4 linked regions of the Homo sapiens genome follow. The protein of the gene in region 1 purifies or fractionates together with the protein of each later gene. This does not show direct contact. Each region holds a gene or a part of one and is shown on either strand. Other genes may lie near its edges.

Region 1 (3,500 bases):
TCAAGTGATCCATCTACCTTGGCCTCCCAGAGTCCTAGGATTACTGGTGTGAGCCACCGCACCCAGCCAAGAAATGTATAAAAATGAAGTGTATATGTTAATGGAATTCTTTACTTTTCAGATTTCTATATTAATTTTAACATTTGTATGTCTATTTTATGTACCTTATCTTTAAACAAAGCCTCAGAGAAAGTCATCCCCCATTGACCATTCTCAGTGATCCCACACCCCCAAACTCCTCTTCCCCAAATAATCTAAGTCCCCAGTGTTCAGCCTATGACTTGCTCAGATCCTTATAGATCTGTTTATTTTCTTTTATGAAGACAATACCACCTCATGTCCCAAGTTGTTGTTATTCTCTCCTTAATAATCCAGTTTACCAAAATAGAGATAAATAATGTGTAAAGAATTTAGGATATAGTAGGCACTCGGGGTTACTGCAAGATAGTTTCCCTCCCACTCCTTTTATTTGCATACCTCTCTCTCTCTTTCAGGAGATTAGCAGAGGCATTTCATATCAGTGAGGATTCTGATCCTTTCAATATACGTTCTTCAGGGTCAAAATTCAGTGATAGTTTGAAAGAAGATGCCAGGTATGTAACTTGTTACCTGCTTTCTTAATTGTGGCTTGTCAGGGTGTTTGGTCTTTTGAGATGTCATAACTAATATGTACTCCTCCTGTGATTAAGCCAGTTCAAGTTTGTTTGTTTATCTATTGTAAGAGATTATGTGCTGTTTAATAAATATCCTTCTCTTGGTTTCTCGAAACTGTCCCCTTAAAGAACTGAACTTGGGGTAGGGTTGAGATAAGAGTTTGGGTGGGGTGGTGGTAAGAGTTTGGGCCTCCCAAGGGCTGGACTAGACTAAATTGGAGGATCTCTGGGCTTCATTCCACTTCTGTCCACCCCAGTCTCACATTCACATGCGTTCTCAGTTGGAGCTATAACAGCTCTTATTTTTCTCCTGGAGTCCCTGGCCTTTCAGTGGCTACTTCTCCTTTCATCTTCTCATTTCTTATATTTTTCTCTTTTGTTCTTCCGTCAGTCATCCTTCTGTTTTCTGACAATTCCTGATCTCTGCAGTTTTACTGCCAGCATTGTCTATTGTCTACGCTTTACAGGGAGAGGATGGGTGAAAGGGGTTCTCAGAAGGGCAGGGACAGACAAAATTAACTGGTGATTTCTCATTTCAGGAAGGACTTAAAGTTTGTCAGTGACGTTGAGAAGGAAATGGAAACCCTCGTGGAGGCCGTGAATAAGGTTGAAGTCGAAACATCCCACTGGACATTTCTCTAAGGCCAGCTTGATGAAAAAAAAAAAGCAATCAAGTCCTGGAAACACTTTCAACCTAGAGTAGTTGTAGGAAAAAGTCACAACTTCTTTGAGGATCCTTATCTTTCTCAAAACACAGCCATTATAACATCTGTGGAAGCCTGTCCTGGTTCAGGACAGTTGACTGCAGAAAAGATCTACAGTCGGCTGGGCACAGTGTCTCATGCCTGTAATGCCAGCACTTTGGGAGGCCAAGGCAGGCAGATCACTTGAGGTCAGGAGTTCTAGATCAGCTTGGCCAACATGACGAAACCCTGTCTCTACTAAAAATATAAAAATTAGCTGGGTGTGGTGGCGGGCACCTGTTATTCCAGCTACTTGCAAGGCTTAGGCAGGAGAATTCCTTGAACCCGGGAGGCAGAGGTTGCTGTGAGCTGAGATTCTGCCACTGCACTCCAGCCTGGGCAACAAGAGTGAAACTCTGTCTCAAAAAGAAAGAAAGAAAGAAAGAAAGCTCTGCAGTCAGCTGTAAGTAAATGCCAGGCACGGTGGCTCACACCTGTAATCCCAGCGCTTTGGGAGGCTGAGGCAGCAGGCGGATCACTTGAGTCCAGGAGTTCACGACCAGCCTGGGCAACGTGGCAAAACCCTGTCTCTACAAAAAATAAAAAATTAGCCAGGTGTGGTGGTGCACACCCATAATCCCAGCTACTCAGGGGGCTGAGGCAGGAGGATTGCTTAAGCCCAGGAGGTCAAGCCTGCAGTAAGCTGAGGTTGAGTCACTGTACTCCAGCTTGGATCTCCAGCTTGAGATCCTGTCTCAATAAAAAAGAAAGAAAGAAAAAGAAAATAAAGATGCTGGCCAAGTGCCTAAGAATGGATGAAGAAACTCTGGGTGAGGGGGCTCAATAGTGATAGTTGAGTGACTGTGTGGGACACTTAGGAAGACACTCTAGCCCCTCAGATCTTTGAAGGGCTATTGTATGCTAGGAAAGCCCACTGTTCTTTATAATTCCAAAGGCAGGAATGTCCCCTTTGGGAAGGATGAAAGTTGTATGACTACAGCTGGAGAGCAGTGGGATAGACTCCTTCAGAAGAGGGAGACCCCTGTCCTGGAGGCGGCCAGGGATGTCACGGAGGTAGCTTTAAGTGGAAAAGTCTTGAGTTTAGTCAGAAGCCCCCAGCGCTGCATTGGCTTCCTCCCCCTTCCATCAGGGGGGACGGTGAGTAAGGACAAGATGGTTGCTTTAGCCCCTGTATCTAATGCTGGTGGTTTTCCTTCCCAGTCTCCTTACCCTCTTCCCATTCCCCTCCTTTCCTCCCTTCTGTTACCACTTCCCAGCAGAATATTAACATGAAGGAGAAAATGGAATGCATTATTCCTCTCCTAATTAAGAAACCCCAACAGATGTGTTTCTCTGCTTGTGTGTCTGTATCTGAATACTCACGATTTTTAAAGTAGAACATACTTTTAAAGGAAATAATATTTTCTTGTTTTGTAAGTCTTTAGTCATTTTTGGGGAATATCACCCACTCCCCAGTTATGGAACCCATCAGGAAGAACCATTATGCTGTCTACCTAAGTCGCAGTTCACTTACCCTTTGTCCCTAACCCTGTCCAGCTGCGACTGTTGTGGCTCACAGAGTAGGTGAAAGAAGTGCATCAGTGCCCATCTTCCCAAACCCCTCCAGGCTTGCTTGGCAGTTAGTAAAATGCTCTATGCTGTGGGCCTCTAAAATCACCTCTTATTGATCCCTGCAATTCTTGTGTGGTAAGATTAGTTGTAAGCATTTTGTTTTCAGAATGATATGATCAATCAGTCATCTTTTCCCTCAATACAGGGAAAGAATAGTAAGAAAAGCCACAGCTTCCCTCCCATGAACAGAGACCACCGCCGGATCATCCATGACTTGGCCCAAGTTTATGGCCTGGAGAGCGTGAGCTATGACAGTGAACCGAAGCGCAATGTGGTGGTCACTGCCATCAGGTAGGTCAATCCCGCCGTCAGAGGAAGAACTCCTAAGCAGGGCAAACTGGACCCAAGAAGCAGGGTCTGTCAATACTTGTCTTTCTTACTACCACTCTCCCTCTTGGAAAAGTAGAAGGAAAATCTGCTTCTCTGGCACTTCCCAGATAATCTAAAGGCCTGAGCCAAAGAGCAAAACCTATGCCTCGACCCACAGGGCAGATGCACTCAAAATGCACAAGTGTCACATCTGCCTACAGTC
Region 2 (4,066 bases), on another chromosome or scaffold:
GATGCCATGTTATTTATTTTACCGAGTCCACCCAAGCCTCCTATATCCAGCGTGTGGATAGTACGAGGTTGACAATTAGTGCATTAGTTACCTGTTTACCACGACGTACTTGCAATAACAAAAGCTATTAGATGGGCTTTCCTAGTATCAAATATTCCTGCATGAGTTGGCTTTGCTTCTGATTGAAAATACTTTTGCCCATCCTTTGCATCTCCCCTATATTCTGGTTCCCTAATACAGAGTCTCGTAGGGGTAGAGAGATACCATTATGTTAGTGTCAGATACACCTGGCTATTTAATAGTTTTGTAAACTTGGGCACATTACTTAAGCTTTCTGTTTTTCCAGTCGTAAAAAACCGAAAGACTGATAGCGATTTTGAAGTTGTCGAAAGACTTTAATGTGTTTGAAAATACCTAACAACAAAGCCTGGCCCACAGCTGGTATTTCAATAATGTTAATTTCCTTGCTTCCCTCTTGAGGTCCTTAAGATTCATAGGTTCTCCGGACTCCTTGAAAGTTTTGTGTAGATGCATGAGGTGTATTTTTCTTGGAAATAAAGTCCACAATTTAACAGATTATCTTGGGGCCAGCGATTTCCCCGAAAATAAATTGTAGATTCTCCTTCCTGCAATGCTAAGGGGTGAATCTCTTTTGCGGGAGACTGGATTCTTTCGGTGTGTGTTTTGCTCTCTGGGTACTCTTTCTGTAGTCGGCTAACAGAGGATGACCAAGCCCCTCGCGGGGGCGGGGGCGGGTCACTCCCGGACAGGGCCCCCATGAAGTTTCCCTGGGGACTGTGTGACTCCCTAGGGGTCGGGTTACCTCCCAGATGGGGGTGGGGTATCACTTGCAGCTGGAAGGCAGGTTCATTTTAAGGTCTCGCGGGCTTCGGAGGCCCCTCCCTCACTGAGAAACCGGCTTTTGTCGTTCTTCTGAAGCCAGAGCTAGTCTTTCCAGGTGTTAGTCGAAACCTCGTGGTGCGACCCTGGTCGTCCCAAACCCCCTAGGCCTTAATCCTGGGGCGGTGGGGGCGGGGAGGCCGTGAGCACGGCTTCCGCTCCTCCAATCCGCCAGAGGGCGCAGCGGCCGGCCTCTCCCTTCCCGGGGTTCTTCGCGCCGGGCCCCTTCCGCGTGGGTGAGTGAATGTGAGAGTCAGCGCTCGCGCCGCGCGCGCCGCCCGCCTCCGCTGTTCGGCGCTCTGCTTTAGGCGGTGGGGGGCGGGCGCGCGCGTAAAAGCATAGAGACGGGCATTGAGCTCTTGGGCTAGAGCGTCGCCGAGTCGGAGCCGGAGCCTGAGCCGCGCGCTGTGTCTCCGCTGCGTCCGCCGAGGCCCCCGAGTGTCAGGGACAAAAGCCTCCGCCTGCTCCCGCAGACGGGGCTCATCTGCCGCCGCCGCCGCGCTGAGGAGAGTTCGCCGCCGTCGCCGCCCGTGAGGATCTGAGAGCCATGTCGGCCAGCAGCCTCTTGGAGCAGGTACAGGCCCGGCCCGCATGCCTCGGCCATTGTGTGAGGCGAGAAGGAGCCCGACTAGGCCCGGGCCCGCCGCTCCTGGGCAGGCCGAGCCGAGCCGAGGCGTCGTCTCTTGCGGGCCAGGTTTCGGGCCTCTCAGGCCGGCCGCGCCCGGCGCCTCTCCCTCAGCCTGTTCTTCCCGCTTCTCCTCGGGCCTCGGAGCCCACGGGCCGGGCCGCGCCGCGTTCCCTTCTCTCGGCGGGCCTCGTTTTCCTTCCTTGTTTCCTTCCCCTTCCTTAAAGCCCTGGGTTCCTCGCGTCGCCGGTGGCGCGTCTGCCGCGTTTTCTCCCCTGCCCCACGGGCCTGGCGCTTTCCCCCGCCTCCCATTTTCAGCCTCTTCCTCACTACCATTCCTGACGCCTCCCCTCGGGCCTGCTCCTTTATTCTCCCTTCGGGCCCTGCCTTAATTTGTTCTTCCTTTTCCATTTCTCCTTTGGACAACTTGCTGCTCGGCGACGTTTCCTTCCCCTGCAGAGACCAAAAGGTCAAGGAAACAAAGGTAAGTCCCGCTCCGCCGGTGGCCCTGAGCCGGGAGGGGGACGCGGGGCGGTGGGGGCGGGGTCTCCGGGAAGCGCCCCGGGCGGAGGACCTTTCGGAAGCCGCTTAGTTCGCAGGTGCCGCACACTTAAGTATTTTGACCCTTTCGGTGTGTTCTTGCAGCTGGCGAACAGCTTTTTCGCTAACAAGGAGTAATTCATTAAGGGTGGGGGTGGATTGGGTTTTGAAACGCTCCAGGTCCTTAGTTTCCTGTAGGTCTTAGAAGGCCTTTGTTTTTCATCCTCGTGGATCACTCTCTGGAAGTACTCTCATGTGATGGGGGAGGGGAAGCGGGAGGGAATGGAAATCCAGAGGAGCCAATAAAATGACCTTTTTAGATCAACTTGCTCTGGGTGGAGGGGGACATTTTCACTGGCGACTGTCGCTTCAGCATTCACTGTCATCTCTTACCCTTTTGAAGTTCAATCTTACGTGCTTTGTTAACTAGTAAGGTTTTTCTCTGGTTAGCATATATGAACTAATTTGAAAGGAAGATTGTAGGATTGGGACACTCCTAATTGAATTTTTTTTTCTTTAGTACAAAATGGATCTGTACATCAAAAGGATGGATTAAACGATGATGATTTTGAACCTTACTTGAGTCCACAGGCAAGGCCCGTGAGTAGTTAACTATTTACATATCTAATCGAAGGGTGTGGTATATTCTTTCTCCGCCTTCTACCAATAAATCCCATTTTCTGAGGATTCATTTTTTTTTCTTTTTTCTGTTTTCTGTTTTTTTGAGACTGAGTCTCGCTCTGACGCCCAGGCTGGGGTGTAGTGGCGCAATTTCGGCTCGCTCCAACTTCCGCCTCTCGGGTTCAAGCGAATCTCCTGTCTCAGCCTCCCGAGTAGGTGGGATTACACGTGTGCACCACCGCACACAGCTAGTTTTTCTATTTTTTTAGTAGAGACGGGGTTTCATGTTGGCCGGGCTGGTCTTGAACTCCTCAGGTGATTCACCCGCCTTGGCCTCCCAAAGTGCTGGGATTACAGGCGTGAGCCACCACGCCTAGCCGAGGATTCACTTTCTTAATACCTGTATTTTTTCTCTGCCCTCTATCAGGAAATCCCATGTTCTGAGGGTTCACCTCCTTAATACCTATTAATGTATTATAAAACAGTTAACTGCAAATGTCCTAGGCCGTTGAGATTCCCATCTCTGTAATATCAGCAACCATACTGTATTGAGAACGTAATACTGATAACACTCTACTGGCAGTAACATGTGCATGAATAATTGTCTTCTTCCTTACCAAGAATGTAGCAGTGCAGAATTTAGGGATTCTTACAGTGTTAAATATTCTGAATTTTCACCCCAGAGAACTTTGGATTCATATGATAGGGAAAGTTCTAATGTAAAATCACCTGAAGGCGGGAAGATCTCTTGAGCCCAGAAGTTTGAAGCTGCAGTGAGCTATCTACGATCATACCTGTGAAAAGCCACTGCGCTCCAGCCTTGGTGACAGAACAAGATCTGGTCTCTAAAAAATAGTCACCTGAACTTCATTCAGTGCTGCAGGACTGGCTGTCTTTCTTTTCTCTAGTTTATGGGTTCTTAGATTATCAGAACTATTTCGGAGTTAGGAAATTTTTTTTTTTTTTTTTTTGAGACGTAGTGTCAACTCTTGTCACCCAGGCTGGAGTGCAGTGGTGCAATCTCGGCTCACTGCAACCTCTGCCTACCAGGTGATTTTGCCCGCCTCAGCCTCCCAAGTAGCTGGGACCACCATGCCCGGCTAATTTTTTTAATTTTTTTGTAGAGATGGGGGTTTCACTATGTTGCCCAATCTGGTCTTGAATTCCTGAGCTCAAGAGGTCCGCCCTCCTCGACCTCTCAGAAGTGTTGGGATTACAGGTGTGAGCCACCATGCCCGGCTGAGTCAGGAAATTTTTGAGTTGAGCTGCACCTACATCTGTGGAGAATACTTTATTTCTCACCGAAGGGAGGTGTAGGATTTATAAAATGGAGTGAAAGTTAAAATACTGTTTAGCACAAATGAAGATCAATAACGTTGG
Region 3 (3,500 bases), on another chromosome or scaffold:
TAATCCAGTGTTCCCGCAACCAAAAAATGAGTGTCGGGGCCAGGCATGGTGGTTCAGCCTGTAATCCCAGCACTTTGGGAGGCTGAGGTGGGTAGATCACTGGAGATAAAGAGTTTGAGACCAGCCTGCTACACATAGTGAAACCCCGTCCCTACTAAAAATACAACAATTAGCCGGGCATGGTGGTTCAGGCCTGTAATCCCAGCTACTCGGGAGGCTGAGGCAGGAGAATTACTTGAACCCGGGAGGTGGAGGCTGCAGTGAGCCAAGATTATGCCATCGCGCTCCAGCCTGAGGGATAGAGCAAGACTCTGTCTCAAAAACAAACAAAAAAAGAGTGTCAGACTTGTACATTCTCTCATTGCCTCGTGCCTGATCTGAAGTCTGCACGAAGACCCGCCTTCACGGCTTAGCTGGTAAGCATGTGCTTTGTTTCCTGTCTAGTGTGTACTGTAAGCACGGTCACCTGTGTCCCATCGACACCGGCCTCATCGAGAAGAATATCGAACTCTTCTTTTCTGGTTCAGCAAAACCAATCTATGATGATGACCCATCTCTTGAAGGTAAGGAATAGTCCGGGATTATGTTTGGGGCACACTTTAAAAACAGCCAGGCAGGGTGGCTCACATCTGTAATCCTAGCACTTTGGGGGTCTGAGGCCAGAGGATCACTTGAGCCCGGGAGTTTGAGACGAGCCTGGACAACATAGCAAGAGCCTGCCTCTATTAAAAAAAAATATATAGCATATATATATAGTATACATATATACTTATATATATGTATAAATAAAAAACATACTTATGAAGCAATAGTCAGCTGGAGTTGCTGCTGCCTCTTAAAGTTAGGGTGTGAGACTTTGTGCCAGGAGCAGCTGTAGGCCAAGTCATTGTGATGACTGAGGAGCACCCGACCTGGCTGATGGGATGTCTGCTGAGTGGGCGCTTAGAGCGCCTCCTGGGTTTGGGATGTGAGTCAGAGCCTTTAGTCCATTTCCTTTTTCTGCTCTAGGTGGTGTTAATGGCAAAAATCTTGGCCCCATAAATGAATGGTGGATCACTGGCTTTGATGGAGGTGAAAAGGCCCTCATCGGCTTCAGCACCTGTAAGTGTGTGGCCCATCATAGGCTGGCCGGGGTCTGAAAGGGGCCTTCATGTTCTCCTTCCTGGGGGCTGACGGGGCTCTGGTGGGAATTCTCAGCAGGCTTGCAGAAGGCCATGTGACTGGGAACCTTAGCAGGTTCAGTTGGGGTAGCCTCTTGTGTTAGTTATGACTGGCTCTGGAACTGACTCTCCAGTTGTAAGAGCAGGTCTTGGCCGGATATGGTGGCTCACACCTGTAATCCCAGCACTTTGGGAGGCCGAGTTGGGGGGATCATTTGAGGCCAGGAATTCGAGACCAGCCTAGCCTGGCCAACATGGTGAAACCCCCTCTCTACCAAAAATACAAAAATTAGCCACGCATGGTGGTGCATACCTGTAATCCCAGCTACTTGGGAGGCTATGGCAGGAGAATCACGTGAACCCAGCAGACAGAGGTTGCAGTGAGCCGAGATCACGCCACTGCCCTCCAGCCTGGGTGACGGAGCAAGACTCTGTCCTCCCCTGAAAAAAAAAAAAGAGCAGGTCTTATTCTTGCAACCCAAACCCAGACTGAATTCCAAACACCAGAGATGAGCTCAATGAAGGCCTACTCAGCTAGTCTTCGCTCTCTGGCTGGCTCAGACAGGCTTCTTCAGAACAAGCCAGCTATGATGTGTTGTGCCCTATGTTTCTGACATTTGGGTACGGGATGACTTTTAGACTGTTGGGTGAGTTTGGTAGACTCCTCCATGCCCTGTGGCCACTGTAGGCGCCATCAGATTCCAGCCCCTTTTCCACACCTCCTCTGTTCACCCCAGCATTTGCCGAATACATTCTGATGGATCCCAGTCCCGAGTATGCGCCCATATTTGGGCTGATGCAGGAGAAGATCTACATCAGCAAGATTGTGGTGGAGTTCCTGCAGAGCAATTCCGACTCGACCTATGAGGACCTGATCAACAAGATCGAGGTAAGAGATCGAGGGTCCTCAGCATCCGGGATTCCCACTGGAAACTTGCCTTCAGAACCAGCAGACACTGTTCTTCAGTTGGATTTAGGCCAGTTTGGCTTAAGCATGAGAGAAACCTGTTCTCTTTCAAGACCACGGTTCCTCCTTCTGGCCTCAACTTGAACCGCTTCACAGAGGACTCCCTCCTGCGACACGCGCAGTTTGTGGTGGAGCAGGTGGAGAGTTATGACGAGGCCGGGGACAGTGATGAGCAGCCCATCTTCCTGACACCCTGCATGCGGGACCTGATCAAGCTGGCTGGGGTCACGCTGGGACAGAGGTAAGGATGCGGCAGGGACCAGAGTGAAGACTGGAGACCGGGGAGGGTAGAGCATGGCCCACATCCTCTGTCCCAGTCCTCTGAGATGCTGGAACCTCTCCCGTAGGCGAGCCCAGGCGAGGCGGCAGACCATCAGGCATTCTACCAGGGAGAAGGACAGGGGACCCACGAAAGCCACCACCACCAAGCTGGTCTACCAGATCTTCGATACTTTCTTCGCAGAGCAAATTGAAAAGGATGACAGAGAAGACAAGGAGAACGCCTTTAAGCGCCGGCGATGTGGCGTCTGTGAGGTAACCTCACCTGTGGGTGCTCCCGCTCCCCTAAGGTGGCCCAGCCTCTGGCCTGATCTGAGGACTGCTCCATCTTTCTCTCTGTGGCTTGAGACTCTGGCTGCTCAAATGTGACCCCTGAGACAGAAATTAGTTAGTGGTCTGGGAGGACCCTGCATACTTCATTGAACGTCAATAGGACAGATGTCCACAGAGGCATGCTTGGGTGCTTTGCTGATAATGCCACTGTCCTTAATTGAAGAGCCTGGCTTCTGGGTGGCTCTGCTGTGCCTGCATCTCACAGTCTGAAGGCCCCTGTTGGACTGCTAAAGGGGTATTCACATCTAAGTGGGCACTTTGTCCAGCTTAGATTTGAGGCCCTCAGGAGGCGTCCCTTTCTGTGAGTTTTTAAAATATATGTTTACTTCACTCAGGAGGAACTAACTTCCTAGTCCTATGACCCAAAGACCAGGACTATTTTGATACCTATTACCTGACTTTCTTTTGGATAAAGACTGGCTTCAGGGCTTTGCTTTTGATCCCCGCTGGCATCTCTTAACAGGAGCCTGCATGTCCTCACCATTGTTATTTTGGTTTTATTTTATTTTTCTTGGTTAACACACGTGTGTCCAATGTTTTATAACTTCTAAAATCTTTTTTTTTTTTTTTTAATTTTTTTGAGACAGTCTCTCTCTGTCACCCAGGCTAGAGTGCAGTGGCACCATCTCAGCTCACCGTAACCTCCGCCTCCCGGGTTCAATCAGTTCTCCCACCTCAGCCTCCCGAGTGGCTGGGATTATAGGCACCCGCCACCATACCCGGCTAATTTTTTTTGTATTTTTAGTAGAGATGGGGTTTCA
Region 4 (3,500 bases), on another chromosome or scaffold:
ACATTTCTTAAAACAAAATATTACCTGATTTATTGATACATTTTTTTCCAAGCAGTTTGTTCACAGTACAATAGAAGTCATCAGTGCAAAGACACTCTTTAAATTGGAAATTGCTTTCCACTAAGTACTGGATACTCAGGTTACAGTATGATGAATTCCTCATCTTGCAGGGGTCACCTGGATCTCACAATCAAACACATAACACTATAGATATTAATCTGATTATAATTTTGGATTCTTCCTCCCCAAAGTACTTTTAACATATTAACCTGAATAATTAATTAATATGGTAAGATTATCTGGGGTTGCTGCAAGATATCCATATAAGTGACATTTTATGAAAAACCTGTATTTTCATTGAATATTTTCCATAATGTACTTTCTATATTAAAACTTTCTGCATTTCAAAATAGCTTTTTCCTACTTAGAATATCATTTCTTGCTTTTCAGTAAAAATAAGGCTACTCTTACAGGAGGTGACCAGAATGCTCTCTAATCTTAGCATTTTGTCAGCTTATCTATTTTATTAGCTATTTTGTCATAATCTGATCTTTTATTTTCATATCATTCTCAGACTATAGAAAGATATGTGCAGGTAGCTCTAAATTTATCATTAAAAATTATGTGGTCCTGGCACATAGCACTCAATAAATATTATTGAATAAGTCTCATAATTACCAATATTTCATTTTCTACATTAATTTAAAAATATGTAATCCTCTACCTGAACATTTTCTTTTATTTATTATTCTGAATAAAACTACCTTAGTTTATTTCATTTGTACATTTGAGAATACGCATATTTCAGCTTCATACATAAAATAATTATGCAAATATTATTGCAATTTACTGCAAAAGACTATTTGTATACTGAAATTAAATAAGGTACAATTTGTGACACCTAAATATAATATTTTAACAACATATTTTAAATTGCCTTATAAAATGTAGCAAGAAGTTTAATCATCAAAATAAATAGATTATTTTTAGATTATACTGTAGATAGATTATACTGTAATCTGTATAGATTATGCTGTAGAACAATGTTCTACTGTATAAATTGACTATGTTCTACCACATAGACAGTTTATTCTATTTACTTATTCTATTTACTTTATTCTATTTGTAGTTTATACTATTCTATTTACTTTTAATGAAAGGAGTCTTACTATAATGTTCTCATTCAATGCTTATTTAGCTACTTGAATATTCAAAATATATATATTTTTTCTTTTTAAGGAAATATAGGCCAGGCACGGTGGTGCACGCCTGCAATCCCAGCACTTTGGGAGGCCGAGGCAGGCAGATCACGAGGCCAAGAAATTGAGACCATCCTGGCCAACGTGGTGAAATCCCGTCTCTACTAAAAATACAAAAATTAGCTGGGCATGGTGGCATGCGCCTGTAGTCCCAGCTACTCTGGAGGCTGAGGCAGGAGAAAGAATCGTTTGAACCCGGGAGGCGGAGGTTGCAGTGAGCCGAGATCACGCAGCTACACTCCAGCCTGGCGACAGACCAAGATTCAGTCTCAAAATAAAAAAAAAAAGAAAAAAGAAAGAAAATACCAGTCACTCTCCAATCTTCACATTCTCAACTCTTGAACCTCCCCACAAATGTTTGGAAGGTAGGCCAAGTTAAAAACAAAACTATAGCTTTACTTGTTCTTGACATAGAATTGGAAATACCGCATATATGTTTCAAGAATATACATTGTACATTGTGCATGGACAAATGCACAACAATTATTATAACAAATCTTATTTTTTCTATTTTATCATTGACATATGTAATCAAAATAACCTTTTATTTGAAAAAAAATAGTGCCATGGTTCTCAGAAGAATGCATAAAATTGTAGCATTATACATGGTGAGAGAGGTAAGAAAATAATCTGAAATCTTGAATAATGCTGCCCTCAGTAATTAAAGCTCTTTAGTAATTAAGAAAATCCTTTTGTAATTAAATTTGCTAATACATGATTAAAAGTGAATCGATGGGGGTCAAGATTAAATAAGATACATAGAAAAAAACTTAGTTCTTAGGATAATGACAAAATATCAAATCCTGTTTTTATCTTAGTAAAAATAAATCATTTGAGTGTATTTTTAGCAACTTGTTTACCTGAATCATTGCAGGCATCTTCCATTACTCTCCAAGCATGTTTACATCCATTTGCATCACGTAAGCATTGCTCTCTTAAATATGTGCAATTATTGGTTTGGGAAGTGTATTCATTTTCCAAGCTTAACCCCATAGCTTGAATAACAACAACAAAAACAAGGTTGTAATATAAATTTGGCATCCATTTTCTTCAAATCTAAGTTATTAATGATAAAGAGCAGAATTATGGAAAATAACATGTAGTGAAATAATTGATGGTGGGAATAACCTTAACCTCCTCTCTAGCTGTAGATCTGTATTTCTTTTTATAGATTCTTAAATGAATATTTTAAATTTGCTCATTTTGACGTCTCATCATCTATTTATTCCTCAACTTATAATTTATTTTTATTACTATTATTCCATTAAAACTGCTCTTAAAAAAGTCTCTAATTACCCCTTTAAAATCTAACTTAATGGTTTTAAACTTTATCTCACCATTGACCATTTTGTTGACTTTTTTGTTTTTGAAACTCTTCCTTTGCCAGCCCTCCCTTCTGTTCTCTTGATATTTATCCACTTTGTATTTTCTGACCATAGCTAAAATTATTCCCAGGATCATTTTATTCTTCTAGTAAAGTATAATTTTAGCTTAGGTTCTCTTCTCAGACCTTTTCTATTTTCATTTTATACATTCTCTGCAGAAAATTCCATGTACTCTTATGGTTTGAACTAAAATGTTAGTCTGATGATTCTCAAATGTATAATTTAATCTCAGTATTTCCAGCGTTCCTGTCATAGGTACGTAATTGTTATCTCTACTTGAATGTTTCAGAAACACTTTCACAGGATCTTCATCATCATTGTTCCACTGTGGACCACTACTTCATTCACAATGCCACAATTAACATGAGAACTCAAACTAGAAATCTTGGTTTTGTGGTAGACTATTTTCCATCCTCAACTTCACTCTCCCATATTCATTCTTGCTAAATTTATTGACTTTCACTTTGAGCATTTGTTTAACTTATTAGTCAGTCTGCCTCCAGTTTGAATCTTATTCAGAACCTTATTCAGATAGGTTCTTTGTAACCCCTAATCTACCTGATGTACTATTCTAGTCTTGCCATTTTTCTGTTTTATATCCTTTAAACTATTTCTCATATCAGGGCTCTCATATTCCTCACCATGTGCAATCTGGAAGGTCTCAAGCATTTATCGTTTCCCGAATGATCCATGCTGTCTTCTACCTCTGCATACCTACTGTCTGATCCCTGATAAGTATTTTCTTTCTTTTTCTTCTGGAATAACCCTTTTTGTTGTTTAAAACTGAACACAATCATTAGCTATTTTCTGGAAACTTTACTTGAATTCTATACTCCCCTTTTTCCACACTCAAATT

The links. The genes of interacting proteins can lie anywhere in the genome.
Region 2: the proteins of NFX1 (region 1) and YTHDF2 purify together in Homo sapiens (affinity purification with mass spectrometry, with the first as the bait; one large-scale study listed by BioGRID). This does not show direct contact.
Region 3: the proteins of NFX1 (region 1) and DNMT1 purify together in Homo sapiens (affinity purification with mass spectrometry, with the first as the bait; one large-scale study listed by BioGRID). This does not show direct contact.
Region 4: the proteins of NFX1 (region 1) and GFRAL purify together in Homo sapiens (affinity purification with mass spectrometry, with the first as the bait; one large-scale study listed by BioGRID). This does not show direct contact.

The regions. Positions count from the first base shown.
Region 1 is NC_000009.12:33,363,516-33,367,015, forward strand, and holds part of NFX1 (transcriptional repressor NF-X1), read left to right. Parts: intron 1-494; coding exon 495-593; intron 594-1,192; coding exon 1,193-1,259; intron 1,260-3,113; coding exon 3,114-3,259; intron 3,260-3,500. UniProt on the Homo sapiens protein: Binds to the X-box motif of MHC class II genes and represses their expression. May play an important role in regulating the duration of an inflammatory response by limiting the period in which MHC class II molecules are induced by interferon-gamma.
Region 2 is NC_000001.11:28,735,674-28,739,739, forward strand, and holds the start of YTHDF2 (YTH domain-containing family protein 2), read left to right. Parts: upstream 1-1,266; 5' UTR 1,267-1,447; coding exon 1,448-1,474; intron 1,475-1,984; coding exon 1,985-2,009; intron 2,010-2,585; coding exon 2,586-2,665; intron 2,666-4,066. UniProt on the Homo sapiens protein: Specifically recognizes and binds N6-methyladenosine (m6A)-containing RNAs, and regulates their stability. M6A is a modification present at internal sites of mRNAs and some non-coding RNAs and plays a role in mRNA stability and processing.
Region 3 is NC_000019.10:10,153,454-10,156,953, reverse strand, and holds part of DNMT1 (DNA (cytosine-5)-methyltransferase 1), read left to right. Parts: intron 1-444; coding exon 445-563; intron 564-1,008; coding exon 1,009-1,101; intron 1,102-1,897; coding exon 1,898-2,049; intron 2,050-2,180; coding exon 2,181-2,368; intron 2,369-2,474; coding exon 2,475-2,661; intron 2,662-3,500. UniProt on the Homo sapiens protein: Methylates CpG residues. Preferentially methylates hemimethylated DNA. Associates with DNA replication sites in S phase maintaining the methylation pattern in the newly synthesized strand, that is essential for epigenetic inheritance.
Region 4 is NC_000006.12:55,330,469-55,333,968, reverse strand, and holds part of GFRAL (GDNF family receptor alpha-like precursor), read right to left. Parts: intron 2,255-3,500; coding exon 2,120-2,254; intron 184-2,119; coding exon 25-183; intron 1-24. UniProt on the Homo sapiens protein: Brainstem-restricted receptor for GDF15 hormone, which triggers an aversive response, characterized by nausea, vomiting, and/or loss of appetite in response to various stresses.